3 separate regions of the Homo sapiens genome follow, and regions 1 and 3 are each linked to region 2. The links come from fine-mapping of genetic effects on gene expression. A gene starts in region 2. Each other region holds a variant in brackets. All regions are shown on one strand. Distances are from middle to middle.

Evidence for each region. PIP is the estimated chance that this variant, and not a neighbour inherited with it, causes the effect.
Region 1: its variant is the best candidate, but not a certain one, in a credible set for the expression of BEGAIN in liver (GTEx, PIP 0.84).
Region 3: its variant is the best candidate, but not a certain one, in a credible set for the expression of BEGAIN in tibial nerve (GTEx, PIP 0.59).

The regions. Positions count from the first base shown.
Region 1 is chr14:100,534,058-100,541,437 of GRCh38, forward strand. It overlaps BEGAIN (brain enriched guanylate kinase associated), which reads right to left. Exons shown (of 7, transcript NM_001385089.1): 6 at 6,439-6,522; 7 at 3,090-5,258. The coding sequence ends at 3,912. It overlaps LOC124903382 (a long non-coding RNA gene), which reads left to right and starts at 3,915. Exons shown (of 2, transcript XR_007064334.1): 1 at 3,915-5,154; 2 at 6,073-7,380. The variant T/C (reference allele first, on the strand shown) is at 4,821.
Region 2 is chr14:100,583,664-100,591,186 of GRCh38, forward strand. It overlaps BEGAIN (brain enriched guanylate kinase associated), which reads right to left and starts at 3,754. Exons shown (of 7, transcript NM_001385089.1): 1 at 3,586-3,754. The coding sequence starts at 3,627.
Region 3 is chr14:100,508,879-100,516,401 of GRCh38, forward strand. All of the region lies in intron 4 of WDR25 (WD repeat domain 25), which reads left to right. Among named protein-coding and RNA genes, the nearest start is that of BEGAIN, 75 kb to the right of the region's middle. The variant T/C (reference allele first, on the strand shown) is at 3,642.

The sequences.
Region 1 (7,380 bases), 50 kb before region 2:
CAGTGGGAGACCCAGCTGCCTAGAGGGTCCCTGGAAATTGCATTGATGAATGTCCTCAGGCTCCAGCAAGGGAAGCTGGCCAGGGGGCCTGGGTCTTGCCCAAGGTGACACTGTCAACTGGTGGCAGAGCCCAACCCTGCGCTGCCCTGCCGAGAGCTGAGGAGAAACATACATGGATGTGTGGGCGGGTGGCGGATGTGCAGACAGGGCCTCCCTGACGGCAAGGCAGGATCTCAGTGCAGGGAGAGGGCAGGGGTGGAGCAGGGAACCCTGTGCCAAGGCCGGCTGCCTGGGTAGATGGGGACTGTCCAGGACTTCCCGTTCAGCTGTGGGGACAGTCCAAGTGCAGAAGGTCGAAGGGCAGATCCAGAGGGAAACTGCCAGCTCCAGAGCTCAGCCCCTTGGGAGCCCCACAGGAGCACTGAACAGTTTCTAGAACTCTCCAGCTGTCACAGATCTGTGCCTTTTCATGGCTGTGTTCCATTTGCCTAAAATACCTGTTGAACTCCTATTCATCCTTCAACACCCATTGTGATCCTCTCCTCTGACCCCTTTCATTCGTCCTCCTGGAGCAGTGAGGGCCCTCCCCTCTGAGAGGCCCACAGGCCCTGTGTTCTGGAAGCCCTGAGCTGAGTGTTACACTGTCTGCCTTCCTCCCCCACCTCTGAGTTCCTTGTGGGCAGGGCCAGGTCCCCGAGGCCAGCATGAGGCTGCCAGCTGACAACAGCACCAGGGAAAGGAGGGGGGCACCGAGACCCAGCCCAAGGGATCCCGCGAGAGAAGAGTCACTGGTCAGAGCCACAGGTGCTCCTAAGTCTCAGGGCCCTGCTGAGCCAGCTTTGAGCCATGAGAATTGGGGATAGTGAACCAAGGTTCCCCAGCCTCAGCACCACAAGGAGCAGTGTCCTGACTGCCGTGCACAGCAGGCAGGCCCCCACCCCGGGGGTGTCAGCCTGACCCTGCCGCTGCAAGCCATGTGGACCCTCTCCTTCCTCTTCTCTCCTGCGCCTGAAGGCTGCCTGGCTCTGCAGCCAAAGTCACCGTCCCTACCCAGTCCTAGGCAGGGACCTAATGGTCCTGGCTGCTCCGGGAACAAGACACCTTGGAGGCCCGGCTGTGGCAGGCATTGCAGCCCAGGCAGGAGAGCCCTGTGAGGTGTGGAGGCCATCTTGGGGGCCGCAGGCTCTGAGGTGGCAATTTGGGGCCAACACCCTGGGTCTGGCCCCCCCAGATCTGGGCCAAGGCTGCCGCCCAGGGCAGGTATGTCTGATTCAGTAGCCCCCAGGAGTGAGACCTGGGTGGGGCCTTTGTCACCTAGAAGTGGCAGAGCCAGGGCGCCCCTCTTTTTGGCCTCAGCTTTCCCACGTCTGGGTGACAGAAATCTCACAGTTGACACTGGGGTAGCTGAAGCTTGGGTTCCCCTCTGGGAATGCCTCTGCCCACCGGGTGCCAGTTATTTCTCTCTCCCACCCTCTTGGCTGCCCCCAGCTCAGTGAGGGCTGTAGCCCCTGTTCTGCCCACAGGCCCCAGAGAGGAGAACAGAATCCCAAACCTCTCCAAGCTTCCCCCGGCTCAGGGAGGCTGCTTCCTGGGACGGCAGCTATGGCTGGAGAAGACACAGCCTGGCTGGCTCTGGCTTCTTCTGCAGAGGAAGGGGGAGGGCAGGGATGCAGGGAGCCACGGCTGATGCCCACTCTCCTTGGAGTGGTCTGACCATAGGCAGAGCCACGCTAGAGCTACACACAAAGCCAGGCGTGCCAGGGAACCTCCAGACACGAACCTGGGTGAGGTGCTCCCCACTGGGACATGCCCCAGGCACCTACAGGGACAGCTATAAAGGCCCTCTTAGGGAGGGGCCTCCATCCTCAGCCTTGAACCCACACATGCACCTCTTCAAGGGCAGGGATGAGCATGTGTCCAAGATGAGCAGGCGTCCAGAGAAACAGGGCCGCCGGAGCGGGAACCACGAGGAGGCCTGCACAGACCACATGGTCCGGTCCCAGACCAGCTTGTGAAATGGTTGTGCCCACTGTTTTGATAGAAATAAGAGATGAGCTGGAAAATATCTCCAGGGAATGGGAAGCTAAGAAAGTGGCACTGTGGATTTGTAAAACAACCAAGTAGAACCTCCAGAAATGAAAAACATGAATAACTGAAATGAAAACCTCAGCGGCTGTGTGTGGCGGCTGAATAGACATAGGAGGGAATTAGTGAGTTGGAAGACAGATGATGTGCAGTGTAGCAGGGAGAGCGCAGCAACCACGGAGGGTGTGGGGAGGGGCGGCAGGGCCCGCTGCAGGCCTGGGATGGCACAGGGTGTGGGGAGGGGTGACAGGGACCGTTGCAGGCCTGGAGTGGCACAGGGCATGGTGGGGGGTGACAGGGCCACTGCAGGCCTGAGGTAGCACAGGTCTGGGAAACAAACCCGGAGGGAGAAAACAGAGAGAATGGGCAGAGAAATGTTTTTAAAAAAATAATAGTTGAGAATTTTTCAGAACTGATGAAGTCCACCAATCCACAGATGTGACTCCCTGAGGATCCTCAGAAGGATTCCTAAGAAGGAACTCCACACCCAGACACACCTCAGGGAAACTGCAGAAAGCCAAAGTCAAAGAGAAAATCTTAAAGAGCCGGGGAAAAGAAAGCAATTTTTTTTTTCTAACCAATGGAGCGGCTCCGGGACTGACAGCCAGTTCCCAATACCAACAGGAAGACAGAGCAGAGCGGCAGCATCCCGTGTGCCCGGGAAAAGGCCACCTGCCGACATTCCATCCGTGGCCCCAGTACATCTCAAGGAGCAGAAGCCAAGTCTGAGACACGAGGATTAGGGGCCAGGAAATCGGTGGGGCAGCGCGCAGGAGAATGGGATGAAAGAGCTGTTGTCTCCAGTGGGTTGGGAGAAGCAGGAGAATCCACACCCTAGATAGGAACTTGGATGGCGGGGTGGGGACGGGGTGTTATGGGGATGGGGTGTGAAGTGGGGTTAAGGGGCCCAACTCGGCTGCAGAGAGCAAGGCTGGGGAGGGACACCAGGGACCCCAGGTTCCCGAGACCAAAAGGCAGGAGGAGGAGAAACAGCCCAACCCAGATTCTTTCCACCGGTGTCTTTTATTAATGAATGCAAAATACAGTACTAACTGGCAGGGCATGCATCAGAGACAACAAGAATGCAAGCTACAGAAACCAGGAATGGAGGGCCTCCTCATGTCTGAGGTAGAGTAAGACGGTGTCAGGGGGCGGACCCGGGGGCGGAGATGAGCACCGGCCGCACTGGGGCATCATCCCGGCCCACCCGGGACGATGGGCCGTGGGAGGGCTCAGGGCGGTGTGGTGGCCACACTGCGAAGAATGGATTTTTAAAACACTTCATAGCCCCGAATTTGTTTCAGCTCCCTCTTCGTGGACACAACTTCAGGGCTCCCTTGTCACTGGCTTGCGGGGGTGGTCTCCCCACTTGCAGAGTCTGGTCTCCACAGGACACCGTCCTTCCCTTCCCTTCCAAGGGGCAGGCCCCACGCACCCTCGCCCAAAAAATAAAGGAGCTTTGTGTTGAAAACGCCAAGGCAGCCGTCCAGGGAGCTGGAGGCCAAGTGCGTTAAGAAAGACCCTTTTTCTCTATAAAAATAGTTTCGCTTTATAAAAGGGGGGATGCTCCTCTCACATGGGGGAAGGACGCGTGAAAAACGCTCTAAGTGGAGTTCCACGGGCCGGGGCCGGGTGGACACCGTGGTGTGGGGGACCCTCCCCTCAGGCCTACAGGGCTGGGGAGGAGAGGAGGTGCGGGGAGGAACAGACTCCTCGTTGTTGGCCGGGGCAGGGGAACAGCGGGGGCTGGGGAGAGGTGAGGCCGGCCCTTCTGGGGCACGTGGGCTGGCGGGGAGCGAACCACGGCCAGGCCTGCACGCAGGCGCTCAGTTGAGCAAGGTTCCGTAGAGCTGGGCCTTGGTGAGGCTGTCCTTGCGGCTCAGCCCCGAGCCACCAGTCCGCGGAAAGGCCTGCTGGGGGCTGAGGCGGGCGGCAGGATGCATTTCCGGGGAGGCCTCCATGGAGCTCGGCTCCAAGGAGTCCCTGGAACCCTGCTCGGGCTCAGGGCTGCTGGCGGTCCCACACAGCTGCACCCCGAGCCTGTCCCCGTCCCCCCCCTCGCTGGGTGCATAGCCGGGCAGTGGGTCAGCCGAGCGGCCGGGACTGAGGCTCAGGTCGCCGCCCGCCCGCAGGAAGCAGGGCTCTGCCAGGTGGCCCTGGGAGAGGTCGTCCCCCTCGGAGAAGCTGTCGGCCTTGTAGCTGGCGTAGAGCGGGCTGGCGCGGCCGTCGGCCTTCTTGCCCGGGCTGCCCCCGGCCCCGCCGTAGTAGCGTTCAGAGAAGCTGCAGGGTGAGGCGCGGCCGGCAGCGCTCACGGGGTAGGAGTAGGCGCCGATGTCCTCCACGCTCAGGGGACGCCACTGGCCCCTCATGTCCTCCCCGGGGAGCCGGGCGGTCCCCGGCTTGGCCCGCAGGCTCCACAGGTTTGGGGGCATCAGGGCCTGCTGGGGACCCGGAGAGGCCGGGAAGCGGAAGGTCTCGGCCGGGTACGGTGACATGGTCCGCCCGAAGCCTGGGGCCACTTCGGCCTCCAGCGGGGCCGCCACCGCGGCCGTGGCCTTGGCAAAGCGAGGGCTGCCCTCGTAGGTGGTGGCGGGTGGCTTGCGGTCGAAGAGCTCGTCGCGGCTGTTCAGGTAGATGGCCTGCTGCGACGCGGTCAGCGTGCTGGCCTGCGCGTGCTCCTTCTCCTCCGACGTGGCGCTGAAGCTGGAGTAGGAGCTGGACGTGGGCAGTGAGCC[T/C]GCGTAGCTGGGGAAGGCCTCATGCTGGAAGCCCGCCGGGAAGGCCGCCGCCTCGGCCTCCTCCTCCTCCTCGGCCGCGCTGTCAGTGGAGTTCTGGGCCCGCAGGAAGCCCACGTCGGTCACGGGCGCGTCCACGCTAGGCCGCCGGTCTCGCCGCCGCTCCTCCGGGCAGTAGAGGGCTGTGTCACTGCAGTAGATGTCTCCCTTGTAGGGGGGCCGCGGGCCTGGTTTCTCCACCCCGTCGCAGAAGGCCAGGTCGCGGGCGGAGGCATCGGACAGGCGGGAGGACAGGCTGGCGGGGTCCGGCTTCTCCAGCACCTTGGCAATGACGCAGGTGGGGACGCTGTCGGCGTAGGCCGGGTGGCAGAGCGGGGATGGCAGGCTGCAGCCGTGCTTCTCCATGTGCAGGCTCACGCGCTCCTGGAAATCCGAGGGCAGCTGGAACGGGTGCGAGGAGGGGGACGGCGGGTACAGGGTCACTGTTAGCATGGCAGCCCAGCCCTGGCCCTGAAGCTGAGGACTGATGTTAGCCATGACCGACAGGCAGACAGACGAACGGGGGCCTCCCGGCTTCTCAAATCACACCAGGGGGAGCCTGGATCCAGGACGCTGTACTGAACAAGCTCCCAGGGGTGTGGGTGCTGTGACTGCCTGGGGATCCTGGGTCACCTCTCCCCACCCCACTCTGATTGGGCCCAGGAGAGCCCAGAAGCTGCAGTCGCCTGGAGAAGCCGGAACCCAGGTCTGATTCAGGCCCCACTCAAGGCTCCACCCCCCGCCACCCCCACCCCACCCATTTTGTGCCCAGCGAGGGGTTGACTTGCTCTCCCAGGCCCGTGGGTTCTGTGGGTTCTACTGGGGGCATGACCCACTCCCCAGCCCCCCAGTCATGCTGCTGGAGCGCTCCTGAAGAAGACAGACTCAGATGCAACAAAGATTGAGGGCCAGGGCTGAGAGCGCCTGGTGCCATGTGGGGGTGTCCCGCTACTGTTTGATCTATTTTGTGAGTGTCTCAGGCATGGCCCAGGACCAGGGGAAAGGAACGCACAGGCCTGGCTGGGAGATTGCATGTGAGGGGAGGGTCGGGGGACGGGGTGCGCAGGGTGCGGCGACCATAGGCGGGCAGGGGTGGGCCTCTGGCCCATCTGCCCTTGGCATCAGACAGGCCTGGTTCTGGGTCCTGGCTCTGCTACCTGCCTGCCACGTGGCCTCAGCCACGCCCTCTTTCCTGAATGTTTTCTTTCTGAAATAGGCACTGCCGGTCATCGTGCCCAGCCACAGGCTCCTGCGAAGCTCCACAAAGGTCACTCTGCCGTGTCAGCGCTCAGTGGAAGCAAGGACCTGGAGCAGCCCCCCAAAGGAAACCGAGGGCAACCAGCAGCCGGGGTGGGCCAAAGGGACTCTGGTGAGGGCCAGGGGCTGCCCGGCTGCGTGAGGTGGGGTGCCTTTGGCGGCCCCTCCAATGTCATGACCCCACAGGAGCGAGGGGGACAGAGGAGGCTCAGGCTCAGCTGGCATCTTCCTCCTCAAAGATGGGAAATGGCTTTGGGGTAGCACTGGCACAAAAGGAGCCCGGTGGTCCCGGGGCGGGGTGGGCCTGGCTGCGGGGCCACGTTACCTCAGACACCTTGTGGACCCTGCCGTAGGTCTGGCTGCACTGCAGCAGCTGGGCCGCTAGATTGCAGTCCTTCCTATAGAGCTCCTAAAAGACAAGAGAAGGCGTTTGGCGCCATTCACCCCAGCCAAGGCCCCGCCGCCCTGACCAGCGCCAAGTGGCCAGCGGGGGCAGTGGTGTGCACAGGGCCTGCTGTGCGCTCAGCAGGACAAGGACCCACTGCTGGCTCCGGCCCTCTCTGGCCTCCACACTCTTGCCTGCAAAATGAGAGCCTCTTTCTGACCTGGGGCTGCCGGAGCATGGAGGGCCCTGCCGCTGCCCTAGCTGGTGCCCTTGAGCACTGCCAAGATGGGAACCTCCCACAAGGTGGGGGGCAGTGGTAGAAGAAGGAGCCCCAATGGCCCTGAGCTCCCCCAGGCTCGTAGAGCAGGCCTGGTCTCCCTGTCCCTGTCCCTCAGGCTCTCGGCGTCCTTCCAAAGATGACGGGGTGGGAGTGCCAGGCAGGAATGGGAGGCAGGATGAACCCCCAGCACCTTCCACCCCGCACTTCAGACTTGCTGCTCACAACCCTCTTCCCAGAGTGTGGTTTGGAAACAGTGTGGCTGCAGGGCTGGGCAGGGACTGGGCAGGTGTGTGACCTCAGGCCCAGGCGGGCGCTGGCTCAGCCTCCTGAGCTGAAAACAGATGCAAACAGTAGGACTCAAGGGGTGTGGCTTCGCCACTGAAAATCTCTGTTGCATGTGCCTGTGTTTGGGGCTTGCATTCCCGCCCCTCCGGGGTCCCCACTGCGAGGGCTCTGACAGCTAGCCCTGGGGTGGCCCGGAGGCCCAGTGACCCACCTGAGCTGCCCCATGGCTGCTCCTGGCAAGGGCTGGCCACAGTCCCAACCCAGCCAGCACCAGGCATCCTGCTGTCCAGGCAAGGCTGTCTCTGACACAGGCACCT
Region 2 (7,523 bases):
TTTCTCTCTCTCTCTTTCGTTTTTCTTCCTTTTTTTTTTTTTTTTTGATGGAGTCTCACTCTGTTGCCCAGGGGCTGGAGTGTAGTGGCACGATCTCGGCTCACTGCAACCTCACCTCTGCCTCCTGGGTTCAAGCAATTCTCCTGTCTCAGCCTCCCAAATGGCTGGAACTACAGGTGCACACCACCACACCCACCTAATTTTTTTTGTATTTTTATAGAGACGGGGTTTCACCATATTGGTCAGGCTGGTCTTGAACTCCTGACCTCAGGTGGTCCACTCACCTTGGCCTCCCAAAGTGCTGGGATTACAGGCGTGAGCCGCTGCGCCCAGCCTATCCCTCTAGGTTTCTACCCATCCATCCGCTGCTCTATCCTGCTAGTGCTTCCCTTCCATACAGTATCATCCACCCATGCATCCCCTTCAGCATGCCTGCGTTGCTTCTCCACCTCATGCACCTCTTAATCCCAGCATGCACCCACTGTGGGATGACCAGGCTTCCATGTCTGGCTTCCCCAGGCAAAGCCCAGGCCTGACCCATCTCCATCCCTGACTTGGGCTCAGGGCTTGCTGATTGAACCAATGACTGCAATTCCCCTGCTTGGCTCAGAGCTGGGCCCTGGCTGATCCCCACCCCAGGCAGACCACAGAGGCTGCTGTACTGTCCTCCAGACTCAAGGCCTGCTGAGGCAAGGGCCACTTTTGAGTTCCCTTCCTGGCTAGAGGGGAGAGAAGAGCCCCAGCAGCTCCTGACTCCTGCCGTACTGGCCAAGGTCCATGTCTCCCAGCAAACTGTGGACTCGTGGAGGGCAAGGTCTGTGTCAGACTCACCTAAGTGACCCCAATGAGCAGTGCAGAGTGGGTGCTTAGGTACAGCATGTTAGGTGAGTGTAGAATTCACACACTTAGTCATTCATCATTCATTCATTCATTCATTCCTATAATGATTAAAGCAATAGAGACACCTCTGGCCAGCTTCTCCCACCACAGGCTACAATCTGATGCCTGCTCTCAGGCCACAGAAGTCACTCCCCTGACTGTAATGGGTGTTAAGCTTCTGATACGGAGCCCTAGAGAGGAGACAGTGAGTCAGCGGCAGAGGAGGAACCAGAACCCAGGGCTGCAGACCTCCGTCCAGGCCTCTCCACTAAGGCTAGCGACCAGCTCTGCGGCAGGAAGGGGAGTCAGAAGAGAACCATGCGGGGTGATTCTAGACCAACACGGCGAGTCCTAGGGTCACCCACCCATCTGTCCCAGGGATCCTTACCTCCCTTAGGGGGAGGAGCCACACCTCCCCACCGCCATGGCTTCCACACTCCAGCAGGACACAGCCTCTCTAAGTCTTGAGACTTGAACACTCTACACTCTCCCCATCACCTTCAGGCCTTGGGCCAGGCTCCTGTAACACACCTTGACCCCTTCATCTGTTCAGCAACTACTCAGCCCTTGGACCCCACCTCCTGGGACCCTGGGTAATGATTTGTGGACTGTGTCCAATAGCCATGGACTCATGGGCTTCAGTCAATCCCTCCCATCCATCCATCCATCCATCCATCCATCCATCCATCCCTCCCTCCCTCCCTCCCTCCCATCCATCCATCCATCCATCCCATCCATCCATCCCTCCCATCCCTCCCATCCATCCCTCCTTCCCTCCCTCCCATCCATCCCTCCCTCCCTCCCTCCCATCCATCCATCCCTCCCTCCCTCCCTCCCATCCATCCATCCCTCCCATCCATCCCTCCCTCCCTCCCATCCATCCATCCATCCATCCATCCATCCATCCATCCATCCATTCATCCATCCATCCACTCTTCAGCATCAGGAGTGCCTGCAGGAGTAGGGAAGCTCCTTCAAAGTGTTGCCGTGGAGATGATGCGTGGAAATGCTGATCCAGGGCCCAGTACATAGCAGGCGTTCCATAAATGGCAGCTATGTGGGCCAGACCCTGCGCCCAAGTCTTGGGAGAGTGGATGGAAGATCTTCCAGATTGCTTAGGGCTCATTTCCTCTCTCCAGGCCTGGGCTCTGACAGGTGTCCCCCTACTCCACCCCAGCGCATGGAAAACTCATCCTCCAGGCTGAGGTTCTAGGCAGCCCTCCCCTCCCCACTCAGCTCCCAGGTGCGAACAGCTCCAGGTTTTGACGACAAACGGAACGCGGAGCCTTGGAATCTATAAATATGAGACAAAAGCTGGGGAGGGCCCTTGGCGGCAGCGCAGCCGCCCATCGCCCAGAGCCCGTGTGCTGAGCCCGGGCAGAGCCGCATCTGCCACAGTGCTTGCTTTTCCAAGCTGCCCTGATTATAGTGAGAGTCGGGAAAATTAAGGGTTTGCAGGATGCTGCTGGGGCCCTCTCTGCCGTCTCCCCGCCCTGCGTGTCACAGATGCCAGGCAGAGCCACCCCCAACGGCCAGTTGCCCCTGCTGGCAAGACCAAGGCCAGCCTGGCAGGGCTGCACACCGCAGTTTGTTAGGGGCTTCTGCCCACAGTCCTCGTGGGAGCCTGGCCCTGGGAGTAGTGGGGGTCTCTGCTGCTCTTGGCAGGCAGAGGAACTAGGGTCCAGAGAAGGAAAAGAACCTGTCCATGGCCTCCAGAGAGCCAGAGCACTGGGGCCTCCGACGGAGCCTGGCTGTGGAGACCCCGCCCCACCCATACCCCCAGGGCCTGGACCCCCAGTCTGCACTGGCGGCCGACCTTGGCCATGCGGACTTTGCACGTGCAGTGCTCCCTATCCATCCGGCCCCGCTCCCGGGTGCCCACTCTGCTCCCATTCTGCCGGCTCAGGAGACTCCAGCGCGTCGCCCACGCTGTTCCTGCCCTGAGGAAACCACATTGGGGATGGGGTGGGGCACAGACGAGGAAGGAAACACCTCTAAACCAAGCAGGAAGCGGAAACGCTGGGGCAGAAATTCCCATCCAACGTGCTGGGGCTCAGGGAGGGTGAGCGCGCCGGCTGAGCCGCTCTGGGCGAGGCCCTGGCCTCCCTGAGCCTCAGTTTCCTCGCCTGTAAAGGGGCAGGAGGATAGTACCTGCCGCGAGGTACTGAATGGGATGGTGGTGTCCGAGGTTCGTGCGCGCCCACGCGCTGCAAACGCTCAATGAGGCGGCCCCGGGTCCAGCCTCCTTCCGGCTCCCGGGCCTTTCTCCGGCCTCCCAAGCAGGGGCTGGCCCTGCCCCCAGACGCAGGCGGGTCCAGGCCTGCCCGCACCCTCGCCACCCGCCCGGGACAGCGGCGGGTCCCCAGTCCTCCGGCCGCGCCCTTGGTCACCCGTCCCTCCTTTCCTTCCGCCGCAGGGGCGCGCGTGTCAGGGCGCAAGGACCCCGCGATAGGACCCGGGCGCTCCCGGCGGCGCGCGGAGGCTGGGCATCCCCGCCCCACCCGAGAGTGCCCAGTTCCCAGGAGACCCGGCCCGGCTCCTCCCGGGCCAGTGAAGCCTCCACGGCGGGGGCGCAGCGCGGAGGGGAGCGGGGCGGGGGGCCGGCCACCTCCCGCGCTGAGCAGGGACCGCCCCAGGCGTGGGTGGCGCCCGCCCCGCCTCCGCGCCCGCGCCCGCGCCCTGCCCTCCCGGCTCGCAGGTACTCACCGCCCGGCGCAGCCGGCCCGGCCGGCGACCGCCAGTCCACATGGCCCCAGGGCAGCCGCGCCGCTCACCGCCGCCGCCGCTACCGCCGCCCCCTCCCCTCCGAGGCCGAGCGCGCCGGGAGCCGGCGCGGCCGGGGCTCCCCCACCCCGCCCGGCTTCCCGCAGGGAGCGCCCGCCCCCCGCCCCCAGCCCGGCTCCCCGCCAGCCCCGGCCCCGCGCAGCCGCGGCTGAGCCCGCGCGTCCTCCCGGCAGCGCCCGGCCGGGGCGCAAGTGGTGGGCGCAGGGCCGGGCAGGGGCGCGGGGGTGCGGCGTGCGCGGGGGCCAGGCGAGGAATGGCAGAGGGGCAGGGAATGAATGAACCCGCGCCAGCTTGAATGGCTGAGCGCGTGAATGAATGAGTGCGGTAGAGCATGCGGGGCTGGGGGGGCGGGGGGAATGAATAAATGAGAGAACTAATGCACGGGCGCGAAGGTGAGTGACAGAGTGAATGGGCCCTTGAAACCCAGAGGCTGTCAGTAATGACCTGCCCAACCTTTTCATCGGTCCATCCATTCAATCCCTCAACATTTATTAGACACCTAGTGTGTACCAACCAGCCCTGCTGTAGGCCCCAGGGGGTACAGTAGCGAGTGAAACCAAGCTCCTGCCCTCGCAGAGTCACATTTTACAGATGAGGAAACCCTGGCTCCCAAGGGTGCCTCCTGGCCAAGCTGCCCCTTACCCTGCCCTTGCTCTGCCCGAGCCCCCAGTCGGTGGCTTCCAGGGCTTGCCTTCTCCCCAAGGAGCTCTCAGGAAGGGAAGGTGGCTTCAGGAGGACCAGTGTTGCCCCCTGCCTATCCCTCCAGTCTGAAGCATCCCACCGACCTGCCCGGTAGAGCCCAGGCTGGCCAGTCCTACCCTGGTAAAGGTGCAGCGTGAACCCTCCTCTCTCCTCCCAGAGCGGGCAAGGGGCAGCCCTGAGGGTGCCAGCTACATGAGGGTCTTCCATCCCAGCCAGCCCAGCAGCAGCCAGCGTGGGAACCCGGGGAGGAGCACTGGCAGCCAGGGAGGGTCCTGCGTGGTGGAAACAGAGCTGGCAAAGCCCGTGTGCTTCGCTCATATCCTCCCTCGGGACCTATGGGCTCATGGTTCACACATGCTTATATCATTTCCAAGTACATGGCAGATTAGAAGATGCTGCGAATGAGTACCTTGTATATTTTTGTTTTTTAATTGTGGAAAACATGGAAAACATAAAATTTACCATTTTAACCACTTTTAAAGTGTACAGTTTGGGGACACTGAGTTCCCACTGTTGAGCTGCCATCACCACCATCCTTATATGCTGTATGTTGTATGCTTTGCAGTTTCTACGCTCTCTCATTTAATCTGGGGAGTAGGTTGCTACATTCAGGCAGTGTCAGTGCTGAGAAAAGGCACTGATAGCAAGGCAAGAGGGGAAACCCAGAAAAAAAGGAGACAAGCAAAAGAACCAGCAGCTGACTGGAGCCACTTCGTGTCAAGCAAAGTCCTGTCTCTGCTCCCTCTCAGGTCCCAGGGACATGATTGGGTAACCAATGGACAGAGGGAGGCGCCTCCAAGTGCACCCCACCACAGTCAAGACAAAATGAGAGGCGGCAGCTCAGGGCGGGGCTCTCCCAGTTTGGGCGAAGCGTGGACAGACTTCGCCCAAACCGTCGCTGGTGTGCACCACGGGACCAGCCTCTTTGCTCAAGGGGGCCTTAGTCTCCCCAGCAGGAGTAGGGACAGGCTCCCTGACCTCCACTCTGGCCTCTCAGGTTCAGACACCATTCAGGCAGCACACAGCAGTGGAGGCATCCTGTGAGAGGTAGTGAGGCCCAGCCTGCCAGCTCCAGTGTCCCTTCCCTCCCCAGTCCCTAAGGGGACAAACACCAATGGGGGATGTGGAACCTGGGGTACAGGCAGGGCTCTGCCCACATTGCCTCCTCCTGGGCTGCGGCCCTTCCCCAGAGGCTGGTCCTGCTCAGATGGTGCCAGAATGTTCACCGCCCGCCCTGGCACTGCTGCTGCCAACGCCACAGATGGCTGGGGAGGCGGGGGAGGGGCGGGTGGGGTGGGGGCGGCTCCTGCTTCAGCTCCAGCAGCTTGCAGGCTTCAGCTCAGGCCTGCCTGGGAAGGCCCCAGGAGAGCCCCTCCCCCATGCTGCACGCACCTCCCGTCCCCACCCTCCCTGCCCTCTCTTCTATCCTTCCCACTCCAGCCCCCTTAAGCTAGGAAGGCGGAGAGAAAGCAGGCATTGGTTGTGGGTCTGGGAGCATCCCTGCAATGCCCCTGTAGGGGAAGTGGTACTAGCCCCTTTTTGCAGATGGGGAAACTACAGTCAGTGCAGCAGAGCCTGGGGCATCAGGCAGGCTTCCTGGAGGAGGCAAGGTTTCAGCCGGGTTGGGAAGAAGGGATGAAAGTGGCAGGACTTCGAGGTGATGCCCTGGGGCCATGGAGGACCCTCTCCTCAGGCCCCTGCCCTCATTCAGACCTCTACGGACCACTCTGTTTGACATCACCATCCCCATGGCTCAATCTCGTTGCCCTATTTTGTTTTTTGCGTGTCTCTTACTGCGTTCCAGAGCTATCTGATCTGTCTGTTGATGTGGACATCAATCTCCCCGCTGGGATGCGTGGTCCTCTACTGTGGTCAGGGAGCAGGGCAGGAAGTGGCACCACACTGGGGCTCATGGTTAAATGTGCCAAAGAATGCATGGATGGATGGAGGTGGGGGAGATAGGAATAGCCTGGTGTGATGCCAGGCTTCTGGCCCTGGTGGCTGAGTATAAAAGAAAGGACAGCACGTCAGGGAAGTCATTGACAGTGAGGCACCCGCAGACAGCCACATACAGGGGCTCCAGCATCAGCTAGCCATGCTGACCAGTTCCCTGCCTCATCTTCCAATCCCCACCCACAAGAACAGATTGAGCAAGGGTTCTGACTATGAGCCCTAGAGAATGGGAAGGTGAGAGGTATCTTCCCACTCTCCCACAAACAACAGGTGCTCCAACTGAAACTCTGGAGTCCCCTGCAGAATCGGGCTACAGCTGCCCTCCACAGGTGGTGAGAAGGCCCTGAATTGGCCCAAGTGTGTATCTAACAATGACCCCAACTGCAATATTAACCCAAATTCCAACCTATATCAAATGCTAAACCTAACTCTAATGGGACCCAAAACCAAAGCAAACTTTAACCCTACCCCAATGCTAGCCTGAACAGTAACATGAACCCTAAACCCGACTCTAACCCCAACACTGTCCTGCCAGAAAGCAATAACCTCAACCCACACCACACGCTAAAGTTAACCCAGACGCCAACCCAAAACCAAATCCCAAAAGGAACATTAAACCAAACCCCAACCCAGCCCTAACCCTAACACTAAACACTGCCAAAAACACCCCAAGCACTAGCCCAAATCCTAACCATAATCCCAACCCCAAACCTAAGCCTAATCCCAACCTGACCCTAACCCTAATCCCAAACCAAATCCTAACCCTAATCCTAACCCCAGCCCTAACCCTAACCGTACCCCGCTGCCCTGTTCCTTCACCTGCTTGTCCTGGGAGCAACGATGAGGGGGGCCTGGGACCGTAGGAAGCGGGCACAGGCAGCTGGGAGCCTCGTAGGTGCTCTGTCCGAGGCAGGTCCCAGGCCCAGGGGTCTGGCCCACTGCTCCTCCTGGGGTGGTGCTGTGAGCCCCTTGGCCTCCACCCCACTGCCTGCCCTGCTCTGTCTCCATGGGAAGCAGCAGTGGCCTCCTCCCTGGGCCTCTGCCCCTGTCAGGCCTTTCCAGCAGGTGGAGGTGGTTTGGATGCTGTGGCTTGGGCTTCAAAACTGTAAATAGGGGAAACCATTTTCAAACAAATATTTGTCAAGCAAAATCCCATCTCATCTCAGTGTGACTGGGCTTATCTCTTTATGCCCTGGGCCTGGGTA
Region 3 (7,523 bases), 75 kb before region 2:
CTAATATGTTGAATTACATTGATTTTTTTTAAAGTTAAACCATATCTTTCCTATTTGGTTTTATGATATATTGTCCTTATATAGAGTTTAATTCAAGTTGCTAATAATTTGTTAAGGATTTTTAAAATCTATGTTAATGAGGATTATTGATCGATACATTTTTTCCTATATTCTTTGTCTCATTTTGATGTGAGATTAATATTGACCTCAGAAAAGTGAACTGAGAAATGTTCTCTACTTATGTTTTTGAATGTTTGTATAAGATTGGTATTATTTCTTCCTTAAATGTTTGATAGAATTCAGCAGTGAAGACATCTGGACACAAGACTTTCTTTGTAGGTAGATATTGAATCACAAAAAAAATTAACTATGTGTAACGTGGGCCATTCAGGTGTCCTATTTCTCCTTTAGTTGTTTTTGTTATCTTTTATCTTCTAAGGAATTTTTCCATTTTATCTAAATTGTCAAATTTATTGCTCTAAAATTGTTTTTAACTTTATTTTTTAATGGCTGGGGTGTCTTCATTTCTTCTTGTTGATCTGAGTGCCAATCTGGTATCACTACCCCCCAGGCTGCAGAACTTCCTTTAGCATTTCTTATAATACAGGTTTGTGGTGGGGAATTCTCTGTTTTTGTTTATCAAAAATGTCTTTATTTTTCCTTCATTTTTGTCGTGTCCTGCCCTTTTTATACTTTTATGGAAATATAACTGACATACAATAAGCTGCACATATTCAAAATGTACAGTTTAAGTTTTCATATATGTATACATCCATGAAATAGTTACCACAATCAAGATAAATAATGCATCCATTACCTTCAAAAGTTTTTGTGCCCCTGTGTTTACTTCTAGAAGTTGTATAGTTTTGGGCTTCATATTAAAGTCTGTGATCTATTTAGTATTAATTTTTTGTGTATGGTACAGGTATGGATGTAGTTTCATGTTTTTGCCTGTGGATAATCAAATTTCTGCAGCATTTGTTGAAAACAATATCTGTGCCTTTACCTCTCTGTGGAAATCAATTGGCTAAATAGATTTAGGTCTATTGTTGTACTCTCTCTTCTGTTCCATTGATTTCTTTTTTTTTTTAATTAAAAAAATTTTTTGTAGGCTGGTTATGGTGGCTCACACCTGTAACCCCAGCACTTTGGGAGGCTGAGGTGGGTGGATCACTTGAGGTCAGGAGGTCGAGACCAGCCTGGCCAACATGGCAAAACCTGTCTCTACTAGAAGTACACAAAATAGCTGGGCGTGGTGGCGTGTGTCTGTAGTCCTAGCTACTCAGGAGGCTGAGGCAAGAGAATTGCTTGAACCCGGGAGGCGGAGGTTGCAGTGAGCTGAGATTGCACCACTGCACTCCAGCCTGGGTGACAGAACGAGACTCCATGTCAAAAAAAAAAAAAATTAATTTTTAGAGACAAGGGTTTCACTGTGTCATCCAGGCAGTGGCACGATCATGGCTCCTGCAGCCTGGAACTTCTGGGCTCAAGCGATCCTTCTGCCTCAATCTCCTGAGTAGCTGGCACTATAGATGTGCACCACCACACTCGGCTAATTTAAAAAAAATTTCTTTTGGCCGGGCACAGTGGTTCACGCCTGTAATCCCAGCACTTTGGGAGGTCAAGGTGGGCGGATCACCTGAGGTCAGGAGTTCAAGACCAGCCTGGCCAACATGGTGAAACCCCGTCTCTACTAAAAATACAAAAATTAGCTGGGCATGATGGTGGGTGCCTGTAATCCCAGCTACTCGGGAGGCTGAGGCAGGAGAATCACTTGAACCCGGGAGCCGGAGGTTGCAGTGAGCCGAGATCGCGTCATTGCACTCCAGCCTGGGTGACAGAGCGAGACACCATCTCAAAATAATAATAATAATAATAATAATAATGTAAATTTTTTTTTTTTTTGTAGAGACAGGGTCTCGCCATGTTGCCCAGGCTGATCTCAAACTCCTGGCTTCAAGTGATCCTCTTTCTTTGGCCTCCCAAAGAGTTGGGATTACTGGTGTGAGCCACTGCACTGGCCCCATTGATTTATTTGTCTATCTTTATACCATTGTTTTCATCATTGTAATATTATAATGAATCTTGAAATCAGCTCGTATAAGTCTTCCACCTTTGTTCTGACTACTGTAGGTTCTTTGCATTTACATTTCAGTTTTACAATTGCTTTGCCAATTTATGCAAAAAAAAACTGGCTTGAACTTTAAATGGTATTGCATCTCATCTGTAGAGCAATTTGGGAAAGAATTGTACTGCCAACAATTTTGTTTCTTTCAACCCATAAGCATAGTATACTTCTCTATTTACTGAAGTCTTTAATTTTTCTCACCAATGTTTTGTAGTTTTCATAGTGTAGGTCTTTCACATTTTTTTGTCAGAATTTATCCCCAAGTATTTATATTTTGATGCTATTGTAAGTGATATTTTAAAATTTCAGCTTCTGGTTGCTCATGGTTAGTATATAGAAAAATTGTGGCTATGTGAATTTTCACCTTGAATTCTGTAACTCTTCTAAACTCATTTATTAGTTCTGGTTGTTTCTTTGTAGATTCTATTGGATTTTCTATATAGATAATCATGTTGTCTGTTAATAAAGTCAGGTTTAGTTATTCTTTTCCAATCTGGACACTATCTGTCTATCTCTATCCTCTCTCTCTCTCATCTATTTTCTCTCTTCCTCCCTCCCTCCCTTCCTCCTTTTCTCCTTCCCTTCCTTCCTTCCTTTCTTGTTTCCTTATTGCACTGGCTCAAACCTCTAGAACAGTGTTGTCTAGAAGTGGTGAGAGTGTGCATCCTTGCCTTATTTCTGATCATAGAGGGAAAGTATTCTCTTTCAGTTACATATGATGTCAACTAGTTGTTTTGTACATGTCCCTATCAGTTTGAATGTACTCCCTTTTATTCATAGTTTGCTGAGAGTTTTTTAAAAATCATGAATGAATGTTAGATTTTGTTAAATGCCTTTTCCCATTTATTGAAATGATCATGTGTGGTTTTTTTATTCTGTTAATATGGTGGATTTTGTCAGTTGATTTTCAAATATTAGAACAGCCTTGCATTCCTGGGATAAACTTCACTTGATCATAATATATTATTCCCTTTGTATAATTTGGAATTATATCAGCTAAAGTTGTGTTAGGAATTTTTGCATCTATGTTTATGAGGGTTATTGATCTGAACTTTTTTTATTATAATATCTTTGTATGGGTTTGGTATCAGGGTAATTCTGGCTTCATAGAACAAATTGGGAAATGTTCATTTCTCATCAATTTTCTGGAAGACTTCGTGTAAAAATTGACATTATTCCTTAAATGTTTGCTAGAATTGACTAGTGAAGCTGTCTTGGCCTGAAATTTTCTTTGTGGGAAGATTTGAAATTTTAAATAAAATCTACTTAGTAAATATAGGGCTATTCTGATTTTCTATTAATCTTTGAGTGACTTTTGATAGCTTGTGCCTTTCAAGAAATTTGTCCATTTCATCAAAGTTGTCCAATTTTTTGGCATAAAGTTTTTTGTAATGTTATTTTTAAAAATCTGTATAATCTGTGGTGATACCACCTCATTTCTCTCAGTGCTGATATTGGTGATTTTTGTCTTCTCTGTTTTTTACTCTGATCAGTCTAGCTAGAGGCTTATAAA[T/C]TTTATTGATCAAGTATCAGATTTTCATTTTATTGTCTTTTACTCTTTCTTTTCTTTTTACAGAACTCATTGATTTCTTTTCCTATCTTATTTCCTTTCTTTCACAAAAACCTTGAATTTAATTTTCTTTTTCTAGTTTCTTAAAGTGTAAGCTGAGGTCATAGTTTTGAGACTTTTATTCTTTTCCGATTATAGATGTTCAATACTATTGATTTTTCTCTAGGTATTTCAGCTGCACTACCCAAGCTGTTGATATATTGCATTTTCATTTTCATTCAGTTCAAAATACTTTCTGATTTCCTTTTGGTTTCTTCCTGATCCATGATTTATTTAGAAGTGTGCTCGTTAGGTTCCAAACACTTGGGAACTTTTCAGATGCCTCTTTGTTATTTTTTCTAATTCAATTCCATTGTGGTCACAGTACATACATTGTATATTTGAATTCTTTTAAATTTATTTAGATTTTTTTGATGTTTTAAAATATGGTCTATCTTGGTAAATGTTCTGTGTGCACTGAAAAGAACGTGTGTTCTGTGGTTGTTGGGTGCAGTGTTCTATAAATGTCAATTACGTCAAGTTGGTTGATAGTGTTATTTAAATTTTCTATATCCTTTCTGTTTTTTCTGTCTATTCTATAAGAGCTGTGCTATACTTTGAACGTATGTATCCCTCCAAAATTTATATGTTGGAACTTAAACCCCAAAGGGATGGTATTAGGGGGTGGGGGCACATAAGGGGTAGATTACGTCATGAGGGCTCCACCTTTGTTAGTGTAGTTAATGCCTTTATAAAAGGGCTGGAGGGAACAAGGTGGGCCCTTTTTTACTCTTCCATCTCTTCTGCCATGTGAGGACAAGCAAGAAGGTGCAAGCCCTCACCAGACACTGAATCTGCTGGCACCTCAATCTTGGACTTCCCACCATCCAGAAATGGGAGAAGTAAATATCTATTATTTATAAATTGCCCAGTCTAAGGTATTTTGTCCTAGCAGCAGGAATGCACTAAGACAAGGCTTGCAATTTGTGTCTCTAAGAGTGGATTTGTCTACTTCCTTTTTCAGTTCTGTTAGTTTTCCTGCATTTATTTTGAAGTTGTTACCAGGTGCATACACAGTTAGGATTATCATGTTCTCCTAATGAATTGATTCTTTTATCATTGTGAAAGGACCCTCTTTTTTTTTTTTCTTTTTTTTGAAACAGAGTCTCACTGGGTTGCCCAGGCTGGTCTCAAATTCCTGAGCTCAAGTGATCCTCCTGCCTCGGCCTCCTAAAGTGCTAGGATTACAGGCATGAGCCACTGTGCCCAGCCATGAAAAGACCCTCTTTATCCCTTTATTCTTTACTCTGAAATCTACTTTGGTATTAATATAGACATTCCTGGCTTATTTTAATTATTGTTAGCATGGCATATCTTTTTTACTTTTTTTTTTTTTTTGAGACAGAGTCTCGCTCTGTGGCCCAGGCAGGAGTGCAGTGGCGCAATCTCGGCTCACTGCAAGCTCCGCCTCCCGGGTTCACGCCATTCTCCTGCCTCAGCCTCCCAAGTAGCTGGGACTACAGGCGCCCGCCACCACGCCCGGCTAATTTTTTTGTATTTTTAGTAGAGATGGGGTTTCACCGTGTTAGCCAGGATGGTCTCGATCTCCTGACCTCGTGATCCGCCCGCCTCGGCCTCCCAAAGTGCTGGGATTACAAGCGTGAGCCACCGCGCCCGGCCCTTTTTTACTTTTAACCTATTTGTATCTTTATATTTAAAGTTTGTTTATTTTAGGCAGCATATAGCTGGATCTTGCTTCTTTATTTTAAACCTGTCTAACAATCTCTTCTTTCGAACTAGGTTATTTGTCCTGTTTTAATTTATTATGATTATTGATATGGTTGGGTTTAAATCTGCTACCTTGCTATTTTTTTTTATTTGTTCCATCTCTTCTCCCCCATCCATTTTTTTCACTTGGATTAATTTAGTATTTTTATGATTTCATCTTAATCTTTTTTGTTGCTTTATCATCTGTGGCATTGTGCTGTGGGGTTTGTTTTTTTAAAATGATTGTCTGCATTTAAGTCACATTATATCTCTTTTTCTGTAAGAACCTTAGAGCAGTATTCAGATTTTCAGTTTCTCCCCTCAGGGTCTTTGTGCTATTACTGTCATACATTTTTCACTCTTACTTATGTTACAATCTCCAACATTGTTATTATTTTTGCTGGAAGTAGCCAATAATTTTAAAAATATTTTAATAATAAAAAGATATTATCTATTTTCCTACATATGTATTATTTCTATTGCTTTTCATTTTTGGGTGTAAATTTAGATCTGGTATCATTTTCTTTGTGCCTTAAGGACTTCCTTTAACATTTCCTGTATTTTTGGTCTGCTAGTGATAAATTATTTCAGCTTTTATTTGCCCAAAAAAATCTTTAGTTTGTCTTTTGTCTAAAAGATATTTATGCTAGGTAAAGAATTTGGGGTTGATGATTTTTTTCTCTTCCAGTACTTTAAACATGTCACTCAATTGTCACTAGTTTGCTCTGTTTCCAATGAGAAGTCTGCTGTATTTCTCATCTTTGCTTTTCTGTATATAATGCATCTTTTCTCTGTCTGCTTTTTAAGATTTTTCTCTTTACCATTGGCTTCAAGCAATTTAAACAATGGGCCTTGGTGTAATTTTTCTCTATGTTTCTTAGGCTTTGTTTAGTTTCTTTTATCTGTGAGTTTATAGTTTTAATCAATGTATTATAGTCTTTTATCTGTGGGTTTACAGTTTAATCAAATTTGGAAAATTTTTGCTCGTAGTTTTTTCAATTTTGTTTGTCCCCGAAACCCCACCCCTCATCTCCCTGTCTCACTTACATTCATATTCAGGGTTTTTGGATTTATTCCATAGCTCACTGATCCTCTGTTCTTCCATATCTTCAAATTTAGTAATCATATCTTATGCAATTTTTAATCTATTAATAGCGGGGCATTGTTTTATATCACTTCTACATGTTTGATTTGGGTCTTTAAAAGATATCTTTCATGTGTATTATCCTTAACATTCTCATACTGTCCGCTACCTTCTTGAGCATACAGTATATAGTCATAACTGATTTATTGTTCTTTTCTATTTATTATTAGTATTATTTTTGAGACTGAGTCTCACTCTGTCACCCAGGCTGGAGTGCAGTGGCCTAATCTTGGCTCACTGCAACCTCTGCCTCCTGGGTTCAAGCAATTTTGCCTCAGCATCCTTAGTAGCTGGAATTACAGGCGCATGCCACCACACCTTGCTTTTTTTTTTTTTTTTTTTTGTATTTTTAGTAGAAATGGGGCTTCATCATGTTTGCCAGGCTGTTCTTGAGCTTCTGACCTCAGGTGATCCACCTGCCTCAGCCTCCCAAAGTTCCGGTATTACAGATGTGAGCCACCACGCCCAACCTCTTTTCTATTTATTCTATCATTTGTGTCACTCATGGGTCTGTTTCTATTGACAGATTTTTTTTTTTTCATTATGGGAAGCATTTTCTTACCTCTTTCCAGGTCTGGTAACTTTTGATTGGATGCCAGACATTGTGAATTTTACTTTTTGGGTATTCAGTATTTTGTTGTGCTTTACATATTTTGAGAGATTTTTTGGATGCGGTTGTATTGCTTGATAACGGTTTGATTTTTCAGAGGCTTGCTGTTAGGCTTTGTTTGGTGGAACAAAAACAGCCTTTAGACTAGGGCCAATTTTGCCTCATTTCTGAGGTTATACTCTTGTGAGTACTCTATCCAATGCCATGTGTATTTCAAGGTTTTCCCCCTCTGACTGGTGGGAAAATGAATGATTCCTAGCTCTGTGTGAAACTTGGCAATTGTTTTGCTTATTCTCTTTTGGTGGTTCCTTTCCCGGTTTGTGTA